3 linked regions of the Homo sapiens genome follow. The protein of the gene in region 2 interacts with the protein of the main gene of each other region in a pairwise test. Each region holds a gene or a part of one and is shown on either strand. Other genes may lie near its edges.

What was found. The genes of interacting proteins can lie anywhere in the genome.
Region 1: the proteins of ZSCAN12 (region 2) and SPRED1 interact in binary tests that used the Homo sapiens proteins (3 or more experiments, as listed by UniProt).
Region 3: the proteins of ZSCAN12 (region 2) and SRPK2 interact in binary tests that used the Homo sapiens proteins (3 or more experiments, as listed by UniProt).

Annotation. Positions count from the first base shown.
Region 1 is NC_000015.10:38,248,068-38,255,848, reverse strand, and holds the start of SPRED1 (sprouty-related, EVH1 domain-containing protein 1), read right to left. Parts: upstream 3,014-7,781; 5' UTR 2,664-3,013; coding exon 2,632-2,663; intron 1,065-2,631; exon of another isoform or gene 946-1,064; intron 1-945. UniProt on the Homo sapiens protein: Tyrosine kinase substrate that inhibits growth-factor-mediated activation of MAP kinase. Negatively regulates hematopoiesis of bone marrow.
Region 2 is NC_000006.12:28,389,726-28,396,749, reverse strand, and holds part of ZSCAN12 (zinc finger and SCAN domain-containing protein 12), read left to right. Parts: intron 1-3,669; coding exon of another isoform or gene 3,670-3,703; coding exon 3,704-3,848; intron 3,849-5,007; coding exon 5,008-6,296; 3' UTR 6,297-7,024. UniProt on the Homo sapiens protein: May be involved in transcriptional regulation.
Region 3 is NC_000007.14:105,126,909-105,133,932, forward strand, and holds part of SRPK2 (SRSF protein kinase 2), read right to left. Parts: exon of another isoform or gene 6,197-7,024; coding exon 6,096-6,196; exon of another isoform or gene 5,991-6,095; coding exon 5,883-5,990; exon of another isoform or gene 4,859-5,882; intron 1,985-4,858; exon of another isoform or gene 1,878-1,984; intron 155-1,877; coding exon 85-154; intron 1-84. UniProt on the Homo sapiens protein: Serine/arginine-rich protein-specific kinase which specifically phosphorylates its substrates at serine residues located in regions rich in arginine/serine dipeptides, known as RS domains and is involved in the phosphorylation of SR splicing factors and the regulation of splicing.

The sequences.
Region 1 (7,781 bases), on a different chromosome or scaffold from region 2:
ATAGTCCCTACTGTAATTAAATCCCTATGAGCAATGGCTTTAAAAAAGAGAAAAGGGAAAAAAATGTAAGGCCCAAATAAAATCCATGTTACAGGGCAGTTTTAAACTGTGCTAAGGCCTTAATGGCTTCTGCCATGATACGTATCTTTCTTCATAATGACTATAAATAATAAATTTCCATTTCAAAACGGTTCACCTATTAAAGATGAGACATAAATTACTATATTAAAAGCTACATTCCAAATAAGTTCACTCTGTGGTTTATCTAATGCACAAGCAAACAATGCTGGCTCTAGTAAAACTGATTATCAGATGAACACATTATTTTCTAATATAATAGAGTTTTTTAAAGTAAAACCCCCAAGATTTTGTTCCCATGAAGAGTTTACCAAAATATTATGCTAAATATTATTATCGCCCTGCCCAAACTTAAAAAGTATTACAAAGCTCCTAGGGAATAATTTATTAATAAAGCAGGATAAATTTGTGAAAAAACGATTTTAAAAGTCTGGGTGAGTGAGATAATTTCCAAGTTGTCCCATACTAAGTACATTTAGATGAAAAAAAAATATTTAAAGCAATCCTCTCACTGAAGATTGCCATCGGTGTTTCAAATATCAACATCTTGGGGATTAAATCACTGGGAGTATTTTCTCAATTTACTGTAATAGCAGTGGAACGCACTATCACTATACAAAAAAACCTGTTGTCTCAATTTATTTATGGCAAGTATTTAAAAAAATGGCCATTTAGAAAAAATATATTTTACTTGTGTTAATTCACATTCCATCATCTGCTTTTTTTATTAGCTGCAACCAGAAGGAAACAAGGAGATATTCACTGCTTTAAGAAAAAAATTAAACTGGTAAGAAGTCTTTTCCCATCTCTAAAAGAAAACTTAACATTTTTAATCCAAACTTTTTGAAAGATACCAATAAAAGTTACCGTCATTCGGTTCAGCATTTTTAGCAGTTCTTCTCCTAAATAACCATTATCTGAGATAGACTTCTTGATCTCCCTCAAAGTAGGTCTAATCTGCAGAAGGCAGGGAGAGACTGTACTGCACTCTGAATGGACAGCCAGGTATTTTATGAATGGAGGCGATCACGTGATCCCAGCACCTCCCCGAACTGATATTTCCCACATAACTGTGTCAACATTCTCAGAACAGGGGTAGTTGTTTGTGTGTGCGTATGTTTTTAAATTTAACCTAAAATTTCACATTCTTCTTACCTTCTGAACTCAAAAATCTACACACAGACAAATAAGCCGCGAATTTTTTTTCTTGGGAAATCCTTTCAAGATGTCCAAGGTGATGGATGTTTAATTATTTTTTTTATGAATGAAGAGTGTGCTATGCAAATGAGGGCGATTCACAAAAAGAGACAGAACATGGCTGCCACTTCTGCTTCTACACTGCACTGACACTGCAGCAATGTACCTCCTTCTACACCCGCTCAGCAGAAGCGTGTGTTTTGGGGTGGGGAGGGAGTAAGGGAGGAGGAAATGTTGTTTGGCCTTTCTCTAGCTATTTTACGTTAAACAGGACTCGGTACAGACTTTAAAAAGTTATTTCAAAAAGGTCTGACTTTAGTAATGCACTGTATTTAAAGGAATGCATCCAAATGACTAAGTCCTAACTCACTTAACTCTTTCCAACCCTCCGAAGATAAACAAAAGTTGAACTTAATTACAAGAAAACGGATGCTAATATTCTGCTTGGAATTAAATCCCTTCTCAATAGAAAAGTGTTGCCAACCATTATTTCTCCACGCAGCTGTCACGTTAAAGCAAAACATTTAAAAGACGAAGTATTTCGTTTGGAAAGCAAGGAGAAAGCCCAAATAAGCTAAAACTTAAACCGGAATGCTCTAAAAGTTAATGAAATCACCAACATATTCAGCAATGTAAATTCGGTTACATCAACGTAAATCATGTGTTTTCACATAGCTGAAAGGTAAAAATTAGCATTCAAAATTCTTCTCCGTTCCTGAAGACACGTCCAATATTCACAAAGGTAAACTCTAGCTCAACATCGCCCACACTCCAGGTGTCCTTAATCCTATTAAATTCTAAAAATGTTTCCCTAACCCTATTTTTTACAAGAATCTTACAGGTCATAAGTTTAAAAGGGGGAGGGGGGAGAGGGTGAAGGCTTAATCGGTATTTAAGAGTCACTGACTCATCGAATTAAGATTCAAGAGCAGTTTGCTGCAGGAGGTGCTCCCACACATTAGTTTCCAAGTGAAACAGCTATAAAGGAAGTAGGATGGATACTGAAGGTATGGTGACTGGTATGTGAGTGAAAAAGGACGGGACAGGGGTCTCACAGGCAAAGGGGTAGTTTCTACTCCACTTCCATCCATCCACATTATTCCCTCTCATAGACGTACAATTGCCATCCTCTCCCAACACTTAATCCCCTACCCCAAAAGAAAGCAGCTAAATGTGGGAGGATGGGGAGGGGTGCTGCCACTAAAAATGGCTAAAGAAATCAGCTATCTCCAGAAGATGCACCGAACTCTCCAGGGTCGCAAGCTTTCCGGCACCCAAGTTTCGGATGGGTCTGGGGGAGAGCCGAGGGCGGATAGGGGGAGGGGGATTAGCAATCGAGATCAATGAGGCGCTTACTCGTTGTCAGAAGTCGCCGTCTCCTCGCTCATCTTTCCCTCACCGTGATCCGATCTGGAGATGGAGGAGCAACAGCAGGCGGGGGAGCAACAGCAGCACCGAGGGGCAGGAGGCAGCGGCGGCCGGGGGGGCGCGGGGGCAGCGGCACAGGGGCCTCACCATGGTGGATGCCTCACCCAGAACGGTACCCCCCCAGCCGGGAACCCCGGCCACCCCCGCAGGGGGGTGGCGGCAGCAACCTCCGCCGTGGCGACCCCAGCCTCTTCCCCCGCCTCAGTGCCCAGCCAAGGGATCCGAGGAGGCCCGGTGGAAAGGGAAAAAGAGAGGGGCTGCAAAGGCTGACTGGAGAGCTGCTCCTCCAGCCACTGGGGTGGAGCGCAGCGGGGTCCGGCCAGGAAGGAGTCGGCGGGCGGAGAACCCGGGAGCAGAGGCGGCGCTTCCCTCAGGGATGCGGCGAGGAGGAAGCAGAGCTCCGCTCGGTGGGGGCCGGCGGGGGGGTGCCGAGCCCAGGCTCCGGGCAGCGGCGGCGCGGTCCTGCCGGAGCCCACCCCACCATCTCCCGCCTCGCCGCCGGCTGCCCCTCAACCCCCGGCGGCGTCTGGGTCGGTCCTCAGGCGCCGGCAGAGCAGGGCTAGGGGCCCCGCGGCGGCGGATTCCTCCAGACACGCTCCAGCCGGGACTCCTCCTCAGGGGGGTGGAGGGGGCGGCGGGGAGCGTGTGAGGCGAGGGGCAGGCAAACCGATCGTTCCCACCCGGCCGGAGAAGAGCGGGCGGGCCCGGGTCCGGGGGGCAGGATCCCGAGAAGCGGCGGGAGAGGACAAGAGCGGCTGCAGGTTCCCCGCCAGCCAGTGCCCACCAGCAGCTCAGCGGGCCAGCTCCTCACGCCCGAGAGAGGGGAGCCGCGAGGGGGGCGGCGGAAGCGCTCACGCCGCCCGCTCCTTCCGCCGCCGCAGCCGCTGCCCGAACCGGGGGCGCCCGCGAGAGAAGGAGGCGAAGTAGTCCCTCGCGACTTCTCCCGGCCGCCCGCTTTCCCCGGAGGCCAGAGCGGGCGCGGGGTGGGGCTGCCGAGCGGGGTGCCCAGGCTGTGAGGGTGTGTGGGTAGGACTAAAAGCCGCGGCCTCCGGGCGAATCACTGCAACTCGAAGTCATGTGCAGCATAGCAAGTTTCAGGAAAGTAGTTCCCTCCTCCCTTCATTTCCCAAATCGTTGTCGAGCCACTTAGCGGAGAAAGGGGGAGGGAGGCGGAGGGATATCCTCCCTGCACCGTGCTCGGTGTGCGTGCGCGCGCTCCAAACTCTTGGCACGCCGCGAAAGGGGGCGGGGGTGGGAGCTGCGAGGGGAGCTGCTAGGGAGGTTGCATTGTTGTGGCGCGTTACTCCCCGTTACTCTGCTTGGAATATCCGGGTTGCTTGAACGAAGAGGCTAGAAAGACAGTGTGCTCAGAGGGGAAATCTGGAGGCTACTCTCTTCTGCCGTGTGTGTGTGTGTGTGTGTGTGTGTGTGTGTGTGTGTGTGTGTGTTTTCTTTGCAGAGCAAAGAATGGAACTGGCATGAGTTCATCTTTAGTTAGTGGGGGTTAGAAGCAGGGACTGCAAAGAGAGCTCCTCCTGCTGTCCCCCTGGTTGCACTGCTGCAGTCCCCTAGCTGCATGCACGAAGTGTATGTGTGTGTGTGTGTGTGTGTGTGTGTGTGTGAGAGAGAGAGAGAGAGAATATGAGAATGTATGTGTGTTTTAACACCTCGCCTCGCTGCCTGGATTCTTACTGCGCAAGGGGTATGCTATCAGGGCATTCATCTCGGAAAGCTGGAGTGATTGTTAATGGAGAACGACTTCCATTGAAGCCCAGGGTAGGCGTGTTACATGAATCTGGCGCAGCCAGAACGGAGGAAATAACTCCCGCTGCGAGTGAGGTTGCATAACTATAGCGCAGGAGATGCTTCTGTGGCACGAACTGCTCTGAACGGAGGCGGACCGATTGGATAGACAGCTGTCACGAATGCATTGTTAGAAGACAAAGTATGCATTCATCTCAAAAGATTTTTGCACAGAAACCTACTGGGGTTGCGGGCTGGAGCCTAAGGTCAGCCCAGCCACAGGAGTCAGAGCTCCTGGCTCTGCAAATTCTATTATCTGTTCTCCACTTAGAAAACCAGCCTGTACATGAACCACCTTAGGGGACTGAATCCCAAGTGCTCCCAAGTTCCTGACGCATCTTCCCAGATATAAGTCTCGCCCTGCGTGCAATGTTTTTCTCTTCCTTCTCAGATTTGTGCGACCTAAGAATGAAGGTTGCCGCTGGTGCCACATTAAAGAGAACAATTCCCGAGGAAAAAAAGAAGTTGGGAGAACCTCGTTAACAAGGCAGCACTCCTCTTCTACCATCCCTCTCCAGGAATCGCAGGATTGTTGTTCTGAGAATGAGCGTGCACAGTAGTGCACTGTTAACAGTGTTTTGCACGTAGCAGGTGCTTAATAAATGTTTGACGAATGAACAGAGGCGCTAAACCAGTCAATGTACCCAAAAAACCATCCCATTGATTTCTGAGGTCTCTTTATGTAACTTGATTCCTGCCTCAGCAGCAGCATTGTCCTTACTCTTGAGAAAGAGAGGGGCAATGTTGATGATGGTCTGTGCTAGACATGACCTCTAAACCTGCCTTTTTGAACTTATTCTTGCCAAGAACTTATACATGGGAGTGTTGATACTGGCCTCTTCCCCTTCCAGGACTACTGTTAACCAGTTAGGCTGCTCAAGTTTCAGTCAAGTACCATCAGTTATAATCTGTGTTCTTATCCAAGTTACTGAAACTCTGGGCCTGCATAAAATGGGGATAATAGTACTTAACTTACACAGCTGTTGTGCTGATGAACGAGATAATAATATACAGAGTTACTTAGAACAGATTAAGAATTCACAGTAAGAATAAGTCCTAGTTCTTACTACTGTTTTGTCAGAGATAGTAATAAACTTCATGGCAAAATAGTGGCAGATGCTCTGAGGATTAAATGTAAAGCATTCAATATTCTTGTTCATGCATTCAACAAATAACTATCAGTTGCTAGACACATGGCCTGGTCCTTAGTAAGCCATTAATAAATGAAACTATCACAGTTATTATGATTAAGTAAATAGAAGGAAAGTCGGTCATTTGCAAAGGCCTTTATCTTTTGAAGATTTGCATCTGTTTGAGGTTCTAGTGTATCAAGGAAATTGTCAGTATAGTCTTTGGAAGAATCTTGGTTGTCATGAGCCAGGCACTGTGCTGGCTATTTCCACATTCCACATACACCACACACTGCTTACATAAAGGGAGCAAGATGTGATCAATAGCCCAAATTAATGCTTTAAAGATTGCTCTCAACTCCACGACCAAGACATAGTCAGCAAACCATCCACAGCCTTTGGTGGTCCTATGCCATTTCTAGAACACTTTTGTGCCCTTTTTTCAACAACGCATTTGTAGTTCTCTCACCCAGTTGTTAAAGATCTCACCAACTTTTTAAAAATTTGCTTTGGTTTAGCAGAGCTCAGAGTCTTCTACTCTGAAGCAGTCAGAAATGGTGCTACTGCTCAGAGCCAAGGGATCTTCTAGTCTGACTGTCAATCACTGGCTGCTCTATACTCAGGAGGCCTCGACTTATCTATCCGGGTGTCTGGACCTTAAGAGTAAAGAGACGTACCAACCAAAGACAATGTGTGAGATCTTATTTGGATCGTGACTTAAATATTTTTAAATTTGGGACAACTGGAGAGATTTGAACATTAACTGGAGATTTGATGAAAACAAGGAATTTTTTTTAAGTATTGGTTTATGGCAACATTTTCTTCAAGTCCTTACCTTTCAGAGATATGTACTAAAATATTTACAGATGAAACGTTATGCTTCAGAATAATCCACTGGGGTGAGGAGTAGGAAGAATGGGTAAGGATATAGATGAAACAAGATTGGTTATAGATTAATGATGAATACATTCTCTTTACTATTTTATAATTTAAAATGTTCTATAATAATTTTTTTAAAATACACTGCAAGTACTTAAAATGCAGATTCCTAGACCCCAGCTCAGAAATTGTGATCACTAGGTCTATGATGGGGCCATGCTTTTGTAAGTATGCCAGGTGCTTGGCCCTTTTTAGTCCTTCATCATCTACTCCCCCTTTCCTTAAAACCATTTTTGTCATCCTGTCTCCCAGCACATCCGTGATTGAAAGCTGTGTTCCAGCTAAACACAAAAAAGGGTGGCCAGTGGTATATCATAAGCTTAGATAGACACTGGTCAAGGCCAGAGGGATAGTTCAGTTAGGAAAGGGGATCCAGCCAGATGTGAGAAGCTAAATACAGATCACAGTTTTGTCTTAAGCTCCAACTCCATTCAGTTGGTACTAATCAAGAAGAATTCTATGGCCACATTCGGGCTCAGCAAGAAAGGAGATACTTATATTTGCTCAGTTGTGTTTTCTAGGTAGCCCTGTGGGAAGGAAGCTAGTCACAATAGCTGGTTATCACAAGTGACTATCTGTATTATTGTCCTCAGCTTTAGGAATTAGCCACAACCATTTAATGACCTGTTCGAGGTAATTAATTATCAATAGGATCCATGGGCCAAAGAGGGAGGAACAAGAGAACAATTGCCAAGTAATTGCCAGTATAGGATATGATCCAAGTTAAGAAGGTACAAGTGGATTCTGAGTTCCATGTAGGTATCAGGCCAGGGTTTATTCACAAGGACAGCAAAAAGTAGGCTGTCCTCACTGAGACACTGGCAGATGGCATGCTATTTTCCTATTCAAAGTTTCTTTTCTTTTTTTCACATTGCTCAGCCCATAGTAATCATCTTTCTTATGAGTTCAGAATTGGTCTTCTCAGATTCTTTTATTTTTGCCTTTGCTGTTTATACTTGTGTTGATAATTATTATTTTTGCTGATTCATTTTTTATGAGTTTATATTTGTTTTCCCAATTAAATTTTAGTGACTTGAAGGTAGGGGCTGCCCTTTATATTTTTTGGCATCCTTTTTAGCAGTGGTCGTAAGTAATAGAGGCTTTTTAGGTAAAATACTATACCAGAGCCTTGACTATATATAAAAATGAAGCTATACTGACTGGCACTGGAGTTGAAATCAGGAATCCCCTCTGGCTTACTATTGG
Region 2 (7,024 bases):
GCCTGTAATCCCAGGTACTTGGTAGGCTGAAGCAGGAGAATCACTTGAACCTAGGAGGCAGAGGTTGCAGTGAGCCGAGATTGTGCCACTGTACCCCAGCCTGGGCAACAGAGTGAGACTCCGTTTAAAAAACAAAACAAACAAACAAACAGAAAAAAGAAATAGGATCGTGAAAGTGTGATTACCAAGGATGAGGCATGTCTTAGGTAAGAACTGTTTGGAAGTGATGACAGATTAGCTCTATTAAATAAAGAAGGAAGAACCAATGGAGAACTCTTTACAGAGCAATGTATTCTAAGCTAAACACTAGGGATTTTAAGCTTGAAAGACTAGTATAATGGAGACACTCCTAACAAAGTTAAAGACTGCAGGAAACAATTAAGCACATATTTACCGAATGTCTGTTTGGACTAGGTACTGTTTTAGGCACTGTGAATGCAACAGCGAACAAAACACAGGGGTTGCTGCTCTCATGTAGGTTCTGGTCCACTGAGACAGATAGTAAATTAAAAATCAACAAACCAGCCTGGGCAACATAGTGAGACCCCCATCTCTATAAAAAATACAAAAATTAGCCAGGCAGGTGTGTGTAGTCCTAGCTACTTGAGAGGCTAAAGTGGGAGGATTGCTTGAGCCCAGGAGATCGAGGCTGCAGTGAACCACGATCATACCACTGCACTCCAGCCTGGGCGACACAGTGAGACCCTATCTCCAAAAAAAAAAAAAAAAATCAACAAACACCTACAAGATGTAGGTGGTAATAAATTCTGTTCAAACAACAACAACAATAAAAGCAGAGAAAAGGAATAGTGAAATAAGTGGGGATTGTGCTGTTTTCTGTAGACTTGTCAGAGAAGGTTTTTCAGATAGGTGACATTTACAGGAGAAATCTGAATGAAAAGAGCAAGCCATAAGCTATCAGGGATAACAGCATTCAGGCAGAGGGTCTTAAAGTGAGAATGTACTTATCATGGTGGAGATGTGGTTGTCAAGGAGGAGATGAAATAAAATGCTTATAAGATTATATTATGTCAGAACTTGTAGGCCATTATAAGAATTTCGAATTGTATTCTGAGATGGAAAGTCATTGGAGAATTTTGAACAGAAGCGAGATATAATCTGACTTGAATTTTAAAATAGTCACTCTGGCTACTGTGAGAAAGTTCCACAATGGGGCTGGGGTAGCCATAGGAGTAAAAGGTAGAGGCAACGAAACCATTTTAGGAGCAATAATAATAAGCAATAATCCAGGCAAGAGATATTGGTGACTTGGACTAGAATAGTAGCAGTGGGAGTGGTAAAATGTGATTGGATTCTGGATATATTTTGGAGCTAGAGCTTGACAGGGTTTGTTTTTATATAGAATGTGGAATATGAGAGAAAGTAAGTTAAGGATTATGCCGAAGTATTTGGTCTGAACATCAGATAGAGTGGATTTGTCATTCATAGAGATGGTAAAGACTGGGAGAGAAGTGGGTTTGGGGTGGAAAGACAGGAATCAAAACTTAGGGTTTGGGCCAGGCACGGTGGCTCAAGCCTGCAATCCTAGCACTTTGGGAGGCCAATGTGGGCAGATCACCTGAGGTCAGGAGTTCAAGACCAGCCTGGCCAACATGATGAAAGCCTGTCTCTACTAAAAATACAAAAATTAGCTGGGTGTGGTGGCAGGCACCTATAATCCCAGCTACTCAGGAGGCTGAGGCAGGAGAATCGCTTGAACCCAGGAGTCGGAAGTTGCAGTGAACCAAGATCTTGCCACTGCACTCCAGCCTGGACGACAGAGTGAGACTCTGCCTCAAAAAAACAAAAAAAACAGGGTTTGGACATGTTAATTTTGAGATTCCTATTAGAATCCAAGCAGAAAAGTTGAGCAAACAACTAGATATAATAAACTGGAATTCAGTGGAAGGGTCTGTGCTAGAACTACAGAATTGGGGCTTTTCAGAATACGCATAGTATTTAAAGCCACGAGATAGGATGAGATCATGAAGGGAGTAATGAGCAGTAGAAACAGAGTAGCTAGGGAGGTACAAAGAATGGGATTCTTAGATGCAGACAAAAGTAATTTGGTTTTAAATGTGCTGAATTTGTATTGCCAACCAGTTCTTTCTCTGAAAGCACTGCAGGGGCATATAATGGAGTTTACAGCTTGATTTCTGAGGCCTGACCAGAGATCCCAGAATAGAAGGCACAGCTCGCAGTACTGGCCTTTTCCCCCGGCTTTCTTTTTTCAAAATATGAGATATCAAAACACCGTTTTCTATACATCTGAGATAGCATTTTGCTGACTCTCGCTTTTATTCTGAAGACTGAGGCTACAAAATGAAAATGTATCAGGGAAATAGAGGCAGTATATGGTGATTTCTTAGTTATAAAATTTAACCTTTGAAGAGAATGGGGGAGTAATTTGAGAACCTGTTGTATGCCAATCCCTGTGCAAGGTGGTTTATACAAATGTTATTTATAATCTCAGAGAGAGTAAGTAACTAGCCCAAGGTCACAGAGCTACTAGACTAAGAGAGAGAGTAAGTAATCCATGTGATTCCAAATCCCTGCTTTTTACAATACCTTGCTGAAGAAACCTGTTATTTTTAAATGCAAGAGGAAATAAGCCCATGGAAGAATGGGAGCCACCCAGTGGCTGAAATTGAATAAATGAGTTAACTGAGGGAGCAAGGGTCAGAGAGAAGCCAAAAGTGATGGGATTGAAGGCAAAAGTAGAGACGTAAGCCTTGAAAAAGAGAAGACATCATCCTAAGATAGAAGAAATGGAGAGGAGTATGAGGGTGGAGATAGATAAAATGAAGAGTAGATGATTTTTGAGATGATTGTGATCTTGGATAAATAGAAAATAAGATAATCTTCCCAGAGAGAAGTGGGACGGGCACCTCAGAAGAGCAGAGACTATTGGGAACAGCTTAGGGAATGAATATGGAAGAGATTTCTCTCCTTCCCTTCTTTTCCCTTTCTTTCTCCTCATTTGTTCCCTTCAACCTTTTTTTTTTTTTTTTTTGGAGCTACAGTGTCTCTGTCACCCAGGCTGGAGTTCAGTAGTGTAATCATAGTTCACTATAACCTTGAACTGGGCTCAAGCAGTCCTCCTGCCTTAGTCCCCTGAGTAGTTAGGACTACAGATGTGCACCACCATGCCCAGATCATTTTTAATTTTTTTGGAGAGATGGGGTCTTGCTATATTGCCTAGGCTGGTCTCAAACTCCTGGCCTCAAGCAATCCTCCCACCATGGCATCCCAAGGGTGCCTTTTTTTTTTTTTTTTTATCATTTCTCTACATTATTTACCTTTACATATCCCCTTTCCTTTTCCTCTTTCTCTCTTAATGTTTTATTTTACCCTAAGTTCTATCTTATTTCCTCCTTTCTGCCTCTTTTCACCTTTTTCTTCTCTCCTTTGTTTTGTCTTTCTCCCTTTCCTTTCTCCACTTCTTTAAGCATAAGATAAAGAGGTAACAGTGGCACAACCAACATACTTTAGCGGTAACAACAGGAGAAATTACATCTGGGTGGAGAAGGGAAGATTCCCCAGAGGAGGCGACATTTATATTGGCCTTGAAGAATGGGTAGGGTTATGGCAGGCTTATATCTGGGAAAAAGGTCATTTCAGGGTTCAGCCACTGCCACAAATAGTATACTTTTTGTTTTCTGTTATCAGAGTGAGTCTGTCAGCTACATCTCATTTTCCTCAGGTCTCAGTCCACACTGGGGAACAGGAAATGTTCTTGCAGGAGACGGTACGTCTACGAAAAGAAGGAGAACCCAGTATGTCCCTCCAGTCCATGAAAGCCCAGCCAAAGTATGAATCTCCAGAACTTGAATCCCAACAGGAGCAAGGTAAAGAAGAAAGACCCATCTTGGGAGGAAGGGGAAGATGGGTAACATAGGACATTGGGGCTTTTTTGTACTTGCTACTGTTTCTGATCATTAAAGTCAAAAAGGCCGTCTCAGAATCTGATGGCTCATATATAGACTCTCAGACAGCCTAGTTTGTCACTCTTCAACCCTTACTTTTTTGTATATTCATATTCTTCTAAATTCTGGCTTTACCACTTAATTTAGTCCTTCTGATATTTATCTCTCTTTATACTGACCTCCTTGCTATTTTTAGCCTTTATCCTATCAGACAATACCTCTATCTTCCACTTGCACTATATCCTTTCTGCTTCACTAAATAAGCCTTTGCTCCATTATGTCTGCAACTAACTTTCAGATGGTTCAAGAAAAAAAAAATTTGTATACTTACAAAGAAAAGGAGTAACAGGCTGGGTGCGGTGGCTCACGCCTATAATCCCAACACTTTGGGAGGCCAAGGTGGGTGGATCACGAGGTCAGGAGTTCGAGACCAGCCTGACCAACATGGTGAAACCCCGTGTCTACTAAAAATACAAAAATTAGCTGGGCATGGTGGCGCGTGCCTGTAATCCCAGCTACTCAGGAGGCTGAGGCAGGAGAATCGCTTGAACCTAGGAGGCGGAGGTTGCAGTGAGCTGACATCACCCCACTGCACTCCAGCCTGAGCAACAGAGCAAGACTGTCTCAAAAAAAAAAAAAAGAAAAAGAAAAAATAATAAAACAAATGTTGCAAAATATTAAAAGTTGGTGAATGTGTGAAAGATCCGCTACCTTATTTCTACTTTCTCTGCATCCTTTTCATTTTCATTTAATTTTTTAAGTAGGTAAAAATGTACATGGCTCAAAAACAAAAATTTTTTAAGTTATTTAATGAAAAGTTTCTATTCTACTCGATTTTCCCAGCCACCTAGTCTCTTCCTCCTACTCTGAAATAGGTTGTAACTGTTACTAATTTTTCGTGTGTCCTTCCAGATATTTTTTTGATGCATATGTTTTCCATATTGAAACAAATATATTTTGCTCTCTTTATCACTAAGATGGTAGACTCTTGCATTTTTTATTTCTAAACAGCTGCTTAATATTAAAATGTATGGATACATTTTAAAGGTAGAAAGAGGTAACATTTATGATCCCTTCTTAGTTTTAGATGTTGAGACTGGAAATGAGTATGGGAATTTAAAGCAAGAAGTTTCTGAAGAAATGGAACCACATGGGAAGACATCCAGTAAATTTGAAAATGATATGTCCAAGTCTGCTAGGTGTGGAGAAACTCGTGAACCTGAAGAAATAACAGAAGAGCCCTCTGCTTGCTCCAGAGAAGATAAACAACCTACCTGTGATGAAAATGGAGTAAGCCTGACTGAGAACTCTGACCATACTGAACATCAGAGAATCTGTCCAGGAGAAGAATCTTACGGATGTGATGACTGTGGAAAAGCTTTTAGTCAGCACTCACACCTCATAGAACATCAGAGGATCCATACTGGAGATAGACCCTACAAATGCGAAGAATGTGGAAAAGCTTTCCGTGGGAGAACTGTGCTTATTCGACACAAAATAATACACACTGGAGAGAAACCGTATAAGTGTAATGAATGTGGCAAAGCCTTTGGCCGGTGGTCAGCTCTTAACCAACATCAGAGACTTCACACAGGAGAAAAACACTATCACTGTAATGACTGTGGCAAAGCCTTTAGTCAGAAAGCAGGCCTCTTTCACCATATCAAGATCCACACAAGAGACAAACCTTATCAGTGCACTCAGTGTAATAAAAGTTTTAGTCGGCGTTCCATACTTACTCAGCATCAAGGAGTTCATACCGGCGCCAAGCCGTATGAGTGCAACGAGTGTGGAAAAGCCTTTGTTTATAACTCATCCCTTGTTTCCCATCAGGAAATCCACCACAAAGAAAAATGCTATCAGTGTAAGGAATGTGGGAAATCCTTCAGTCAGAGTGGCCTTATTCAGCATCAGAGAATTCACACTGGGGAAAAACCCTACAAATGTGACGTATGTGAAAAAGCCTTTATTCAAAGGACAAGTCTTACAGAACATCAGCGAATTCACACTGGAGAAAGACCCTATAAATGTGATAAGTGTGGGAAGGCGTTTACTCAAAGATCAGTCCTCACGGAACATCAGAGAATCCACACTGGAGAGAGGCCCTACAAGTGTGATGAGTGTGGGAATGCCTTCCGAGGAATCACCAGCCTCATTCAGCATCAGAGAATCCACACTGGGGAGAAGCCCTACCAATGTGATGAGTGTGGAAAAGCCTTCAGACAGAGGTCAGATCTTAGTAAACACCAGAGAATCCATAATAGACGTGGTACCTATGTATGTAAAGAGTGTGGGAAATCATTCAGGCAGAACTCAGCTCTTACTCAACATCAGACTATCCACAAAGGAGAAAAATCTGTTTCTGTGTGATGACTACAGGGAAGTTATCTCACAGAGTTCAGGCCGGTGAGAAATACTATTTAGCTTTACAATTATTGGGGCAAAACTTCAGTCACCATTGTTATAAGGAAACCTCAGATATTTAATAAGAATTCACTGTGTGCTGCCCATTGTACTACGTGCTGTGGAGAACAAGAAGATAACCCCAAACTCTTTTCTCAGAGAGTTTGTAGCCTAGTTTGGGATAGATAAGATCCACATATTTAGTCATATAAGACTACAGGAGAGTAGAATTGATGCACCAGATGGTGTCGAATGAAAGTGGTACTTTGTAACAGACTATAAGTGCTGTAAATTCTAAAGGACAGGTTACTTTTGCCTGGAGTGGTCAAGAAAGATTTTATTTAAAATAAGGATTTGACGGGCAGACTTAGCAGTCAAAAGGGAGAAAGCGGGTAAAACAAATGTAAGCCATCATAAGAGTGCATGTGGTTTGGAAGCATCAGGGAAAAGACTAGCCAACCTGAAGTAAAAGGTTCGTGCAAATTGGGCAATCAATAGCATTAAGTTGGAAACAGCTTGGGGACAGACACATAAGAGGGCCAGAGTGTGAATAATTTCATCTAATACTTTATAGCACTTGGACATTTACAGAGCACTTTTCTCAATTCCTAAAATACCTTGGTAAATCAAAAGCATTCTCCATTTTAAAAATGAGAATACTCTTGCCTATGGAGATGGCAACATAGCTATAATCC
Region 3 (7,024 bases), on a different chromosome or scaffold from region 2:
TCAGTACAAAAATACAGTACTCTACAGAAGTTCAGGGCTGGCAGAAGACCTAGACCGAGGTATTCAGCAGGCACCAATACTCACCTTCGTCTCTGGAATAGTCTTCCCCAGAATGTGGTTCAAACAAATAATCTCCCGTTGCCAGCTCAAATGCCTAGGATACAACAGACGACATGCTAAGCACTTCAGAGACTGGCCCCCAAGTCAACAGCTTTTTCTCCTTATAGAAGAGACCGCCACTTTATGAAGATCTGAATCAAACAAAATAGCCTCCTGAAAGTGCTCAATACTAATTTTTTTCTTTCTTCCACATTCAAAGAAGTTTCAGAAGTATTTTTACATTTCTAAGGAAAGATATAAGAGCTATGTATTCTCTTCATTTTGCAGGAAGCAAAACCAAAACGTCAGTGAGTCAGCCGCACCTGCATGCAGGCCTGGCCAGAGCGCGGTATGCACTCTATAAATGGTAGAACGAGAGTTCAACCCAGGACTCAACAAGGCCCGTCTGACTCCAGCACCTGCCTCAACCACTATAATAGCCTTGGCCTCTGTATAGCAGACACTGCTGCGTCTTTTAGGCGAAGACCTTCATGTTTTAGTAACCAAGGACTATTTTCAGTATCTCATCAACCATTTTCATCATCATTTCATTCATTTCTGATTCAACCAAAGGAAAACCTGGAAACAAAAAAGACCCTCTTTGTCCCCAGGGCCAGAGGAAGCAGATGGTCTTGCAGACCCTTTTGTGGATGTCACGGAGCACTGGCTTCCTGGGTGGCCACTGGCTGTCCCTCAGCATGCCAGCATGTAGGGAACACATTTCCCTTGCTCACAAAAAAACCCTCAAAAACATGAGTTTAAGCTAGTAACAATATACAAAAATGGCAACTGCTACTGCTCTGCTGATCAAAGAGAATGTTTTAAAAGAGAAAAAAAGAATAAGCTAAATCCCATTTCTGGTTTTTCTCATAGCTGCTTCTATTCTGAACGGATCTTGCTGTCCCAAAAGGTGCTCAGAGGCCCAATCACTGATGCCTGTGGATCTGTGACTGCCCTCCCCATTCCCGCCCCAAGGAGCCAATACTGGGGAAACTTCACTGCATCAACCTACCTTCTTTTTCTTTCAATGACCACACAGTGCTGGAAAGGCACCTTTAAGGGAAGGCTCACCTGCCTGGGTGAGGGGCCACCTCTCCTGGCACTGTCTTTAACAAACCAAGAGTGAGTGCAGTCAGCCCAGGACCACATCTTTTCACCTTTTTTAAAAAAAAAGACTGCCTGTCAATCACTTGAAGGAAGGAAGGATGGTGACAAGATGGCTTCCAGCTGACCGAGCGATAAGCATTAATTTATGAACTCAGGATCCCTGCCCTGAACCTGGCATAGGTCTGAGCAAGACACGGACATGTCACATCTCAGCATGGTGAGCTGGTGGTCCCAGCACTGTGGATGCACGAAGGCACCAGCAGAAAACCCAGGAAAGCCCTTATGTAGGGCCTCTCCTTTCCACCCAATAAACAAAGAAGACAGTTGGGCCAATCCCAGATGAGGGCAGGAAAACCTCATAACTGGCCCCAAATCCAAGTGGAACAACTAGATTACACACTCAATGGCCAGGAGAGTCCTTCTAGCCTGGGAAACAATCAATTCAGTATCTTACAAGCTAAGAGAAAAATCTGAAAACTCTAATGGGACAACGAGGACTTGAAAAGCCTGGATCAAGTTCCAAGCTGCTTTTCAACCCCTGCCTTGAGCCCTATGCTAACTAACTCTTTTAATTAATTTTCAAAATGACTTCAATCTGGTTGCATATATTTCTTTTTCTTTCATATTTTTTAGAGAAGGGACCTCGCTATGTTGTCCAGGCTGGACTCAACCTCTTGGGCTCCAGTGATCCTCTCTCAGCCTCCAGAGAAGCTGGGACTACAGGCGCACTACACTGCACCCAGCTTTGTACATATTTCTTACTGCCAAAATATGTCAGGTATGTATTCTTTGAAAAAAATCATCATTTTGATTAGCACCCACATATTCCCAAGAAAACATGTATAGAAGCCAATCAATGAAATAATTTTTTTTTGAGACGGAGTCTCGCTCTGTCACCCAGGCTGGAGTGCAGTGGCACAATCAATCTCAGCTCACTGCAAGCTCACACCATTCTCCTTGCCTCAGCCTCCTGAGTAGCTGGGACTACAGGCGCCCGCCACCACGCCCGGCTAATTTTTTGTAGAGACGGGATTTCACCATGTTAGCCTGACCTCGTGACCCGCCTGCCTCGGCCTCCCAAAGTGCTGGGATTACAGGCGTGAGCCACCAAGCCCGGCCAAATAATTTTCTTTTTTTTTAAAGGAACAAGGAAGATGAAGGCTGTAATGCTACCCATTTTTGATTCTTTGGAGAGTGGCAAGATTCTCTTAACAATACAACATGTACAACAGGGCAAATGCACATTACAATGAAAAAAACTCTGCCTTCAACTCAGTTACTCCCAGTATAACCTTCTATTGCCCAGGCTGAGTGCAGCGGCACAATTTTGGCTCACTACAACCTCTGCCTCCTGGGTTCAAGCGATTCTCCTGCCTCAGCCACCTGAGTAGCTAGGACTATAGGCACGTGCCACCATGCCCAGCTAATTTTTGTATTTTCAGTAGAGATGGGGTTTTGCCATGTTGGCCAGGCTGGTCTCAAACTCCTGGCCTCAAGTGATCTGCCTGCCTTGGCCTCCCAAAGTGCTGGGATTACAGGTGTGCATCACCTCGCTGGGCCTAAGTATAATCTTTATTATTATTTTTAATACCTGGGAACTCCGGATTCTTCTCTACTTGGCTCAATCCCCTCAAAGGGCTCTTCCCTGGACCTACTTGTTTCCAGATTCTTGGGAGACCAACTACCTCTCTCCTAAAACATTCTCCTATGCTGAAGTATCCCGATTCTGAACAAATAAGATCACGTATTTGTTCTGTAATGTGACCAGTGCCGAAGAAGTCTGGTGAAGTTTGTTGGAATGGCTTTTCTTGTTTCTATGGCACTGACCAGGACTCACCATGGAGTTCATAAAAAGTCCTATCAGAGACTCTAATACATAAATGCAGAGAAACCAATGCTTCAGCCACAAAGAAGTTTCAGATTATATGTACTTACACTGGAAGGTGTAAAGCTCAAAAAAAAAGTAAAACTCAAGAAAAGTAAAACAGATCCAAACCCAACATACCCTTGCTGTGGTCCCTCATTCTGTTGTGCTTCTCCAGCTGCAGAGCCTAAAGCTGTCCTCCCTGACAATAGCCAATGGCTACCACCCGTCAGCTCTCATTCCCAACAGAGTCTCTGTGAGATTTGATGCTATTTATAAATCTCAAAGACAGCCGGGCACAGTGTCACATCCCTGTAATCCCAGCACTATGGGAGACCAGGGCGGGTGGATCACTTGAGCTCAGGAGATCAAGACCAGCCTAGACAACGTGACAAACTCCATCTCTACAAAAAATACAAAAATTAGCCAGGCGTGGTGGCATGTGCCTGTAGTCCCAGCTACACCAGAGGCTGAGGTGGGAGGATCACTTGAGCTTGGGAAGTGGAGTCTGCAGTGAACTATAGTCCTGCCACTGCACTTCAGCTTGGGGAACAGAGCAAGACCTTGTCTCCAAACAAACAAACAAAACCCTCAAAGACTATATATAGGCTTTACCACCAAGAACCATCTGTGGCCTTATGACAGCTTGGTATTATGAGGTCAAATTTAATATATTAAATGTCCTATTTTTACACTACAACAGAACGATGAGGTAAGAAAAACTGCCTCATTGCTCCTAGGTTCTCTAGGAGGAACAAAAGAAACCTCTAAAGCCATGACTTTTGGGGGGTGGGGCAAGCAGTGAATGAGGGCCTGCCCCTTTCCAAAAAAAAAAAAACCTCCCTTATGACAACCAACTGAAAAAGCAAACCTCATAAGCCGTCCTGACAGCACTGAGGGAGCTTATGCTTAATTCTTGGGAAGGGGGCAGGTGAGAAGACAGAAAGGCTTTTCCTTGGGAATCTGTTATTGATATTTATGCCACTGTTCACAGCAATAGCATTTCAAGAAGTAAGCAGGACAGGGAAATTGTATGGAGGGACAAACGTTCATCTAATGGAAGGCAGGTCAGATAACCTGGTATAAAATTGTGCTGAAAGCTCCATTAACCCACTACATCCGTGACTGCGTCCTATTTTTCTGGTTATATCACCAAACTTAATACCCCAAATTAGAAGCACAGCATTTCAGAGTTCAAAGAGTACTTAGCGCCTAATTCGGGGCAGCCCTGCTGCTAGTGGCCATTGTGGTCTAACCTCCCCACATCCTGAAATGGCCCCTGCTCCCCGACTCCCACTCAGTGTCTCCGCAGCTCCCGTTACACTAACTCCCACGTCTCAGTCTGCCTGCTGGGGTCACACAGAGAGGGTCAAATGCCTCTCCACACAGCACTCTCTAAATTCAAAGTGACCATCATTGGCCACCGGTTCTTTTAACCGTTCTTTTCTATACCTAGCTAAGGCAGGGACTTGGTTTTTGATATGGAAGAACTTTAATACCTTTAATAATTTAAACGTTATTGTCTGGTATTATCCTTAAGAGCAACGAGGGAATAGAAAGGCCTGGTGTTTCAGGACCTATCTGGCCATGTGCTGACTCAGATCATGCTGAGTCAAAGCTGAAAGACAGAAAGCACCCTCTTTTTCTCCTATCAGCTGGCACTATCTGCTCAACAATGCTTTTACTTGAGCATTAGAGGAGGTAAAACACAGTAAATTCAAGAAAATTGTTAAATTAACCTCTGAATAACAGAAAATTAATATATTTATTCTGCATTCCTTTTTTCAGTGAGAAGAAAAATGCTAAGCCTTGCACACAATCTTTTCTTTTAAATATTGGAAGAATATGGATAAAAAGCAGTATGGAATAGGAAAAGCATGAAACCCAACAGCAAGCAACCCACCTTTCCCAACACGGAACGCCTAAGTAAATACCACTGAGAAAAAGCTGCTGAATGGGCCAGGAAACAGGGCAGAGGAAGAGAACCAGGAACTGGCTCGCAAATGCAGGGCCCTTTGTGTTCACCAACTCACAGGTTCAGGGTCAATGACCAAACGATGCCAGGCAGGGCCAGGGGAGTTTACAGACAATGCAACTGTGCAGCACAAAACCAGCAGCAAAACAGGCCTGACAGATAGAAGAAGAGGCTTCTGCCGCCCTGTGGAAGCCGTCATCTCAACCACTCTGGGAACAGACTCTGTCAGAGGGAGTGGGCGTTGCTGCCACTGTTTCAGAAGAGGCTAGACATCCTAGAATAAGCCAGAATATCTGCTAGCTCTTGCTTTATAAGGGAAGAGAGATTATGCATTGGCATCTGGGGAAATCCCTTCCAGTCTGGAAAGGTGAGGAACCCTGCATGTCTGGTTGACCAGGCAGAGGCTTACCTGGAGGGGCTCCCACCTGCCCGCCTTAGGCAGTCTTCCCCTGGAGATGCTACCTCATCTTCCTCCACAGTGTGAGTGAAGGGAAAAGCTCCCTATACCCTGCACATTTTCAGGGACCACAAGTGAAGTCACTGTGTCACAACAACTGAGTCTGATTCATGGGGCTGTGGGCTGTGCAGGGCCTTAAGAAGAGACCATGTCTCTCTCACAAGCCCACAACCACACCAAACACCCAGGGCCCGCCTGAGGAGGATCCTTCCACTTCTTAAGATGCCTGCGGCAGCAACCTTCCCCTCACCCAGCCCACGGTGGATGACCCTTACAGTCAGAAAAACTGAGGTCGCATGCCTCAGAGAGACTCAGCCCCATCCAGAGTGTGAAAGGAACGAGCCAATTCCCATGGCAGCAAAGGGCACAGCCGTCCTTACCATACACGCCGTGCTCCAGATGTCCGCAGGGGTGCTGTACCCCGCTCCTATTAAAACCTCTATGGAGCGGTACTGACGCGTCTGGATGTCTTCCGTGAAGTGTTTATGCTGGAAGGGAACAGGCTGCATTACCACGGAGCAACACAGACATTCAAAAAGTGTCTTCGCACACAGAATCAAGACCAAAGGTTTTAGAAAGAAAACTCTACTTACCACCCAACAAGCATTTCCCAGGTCAGCAATTTTTACTCTAATTTTATCTGCATTCCGCGGATCCAGGGGATTCACCAACAAGTCAGCTGCCCGGGTTTTTGCTGGCATGAGCAAACAGCAGGACAGTTAGTGATCGGGATAGGTGGTTTGCATGTGTGAGCACAGTGTTTGCCAGGGTCAGTCTCCTTTCCTCAAGAGTAGTGGAATGATCACTTAGGCCTGGAATACTGTAAATTAAACTTGACAGAACTAAAATTGCTTGTTCTCCACCTCTGGAAAATACTCCAGAAAAGAGCAAACTGGGCTGCCCACAGGACGCCAAGGGCACTGCCTTGACCTTTCTCTTTTTATCCCCAGTTTCTTCGGGTCCAGGTCAGCCCTAGAACAAGCCAGCCTTGCTGTCCCCCTGTCTGCAGCTTTGTGGCGGCTCTTCATGGTGTCAATCCATCCCTTCACGGCCCAGATCGAGCTTGCTGATGCATTATTACAAGGAACATGAAGGTAGAAAGAACACTGCTGTGGGGGCCGATCACTCTCAGTGACACACAGTTCCTTGGACGCCACAAGACATCAGGGTCCCTGGCACCGACACCTCACACCCACATCATCCCCTACAGTTCCCACTGCTTGGGCTGAGCACACACAGATCTCAAGGGGTAGATGACTGTTGATTAACAAACACAGATTAAAGGCAGGGACTAAACTATTCTGGTTTTGTTTTAGACAAGGAAGGTCCCAGACAGAGGTCTCCTGAGATGGCCTGGGCCATAAAGGCAACCTCTGAGGTCAGTCATGAACTTGTCATGTACATGAGCAGTCATTCTAAATTCCAGGATGACTCCAGGGAATCTCAAAGGCAGGTATAGGGCCAGCTTCCCAGAGATTCTGGGGCCAGATCTTCTCAAACAAGTTCAGATCATGCCTGTATC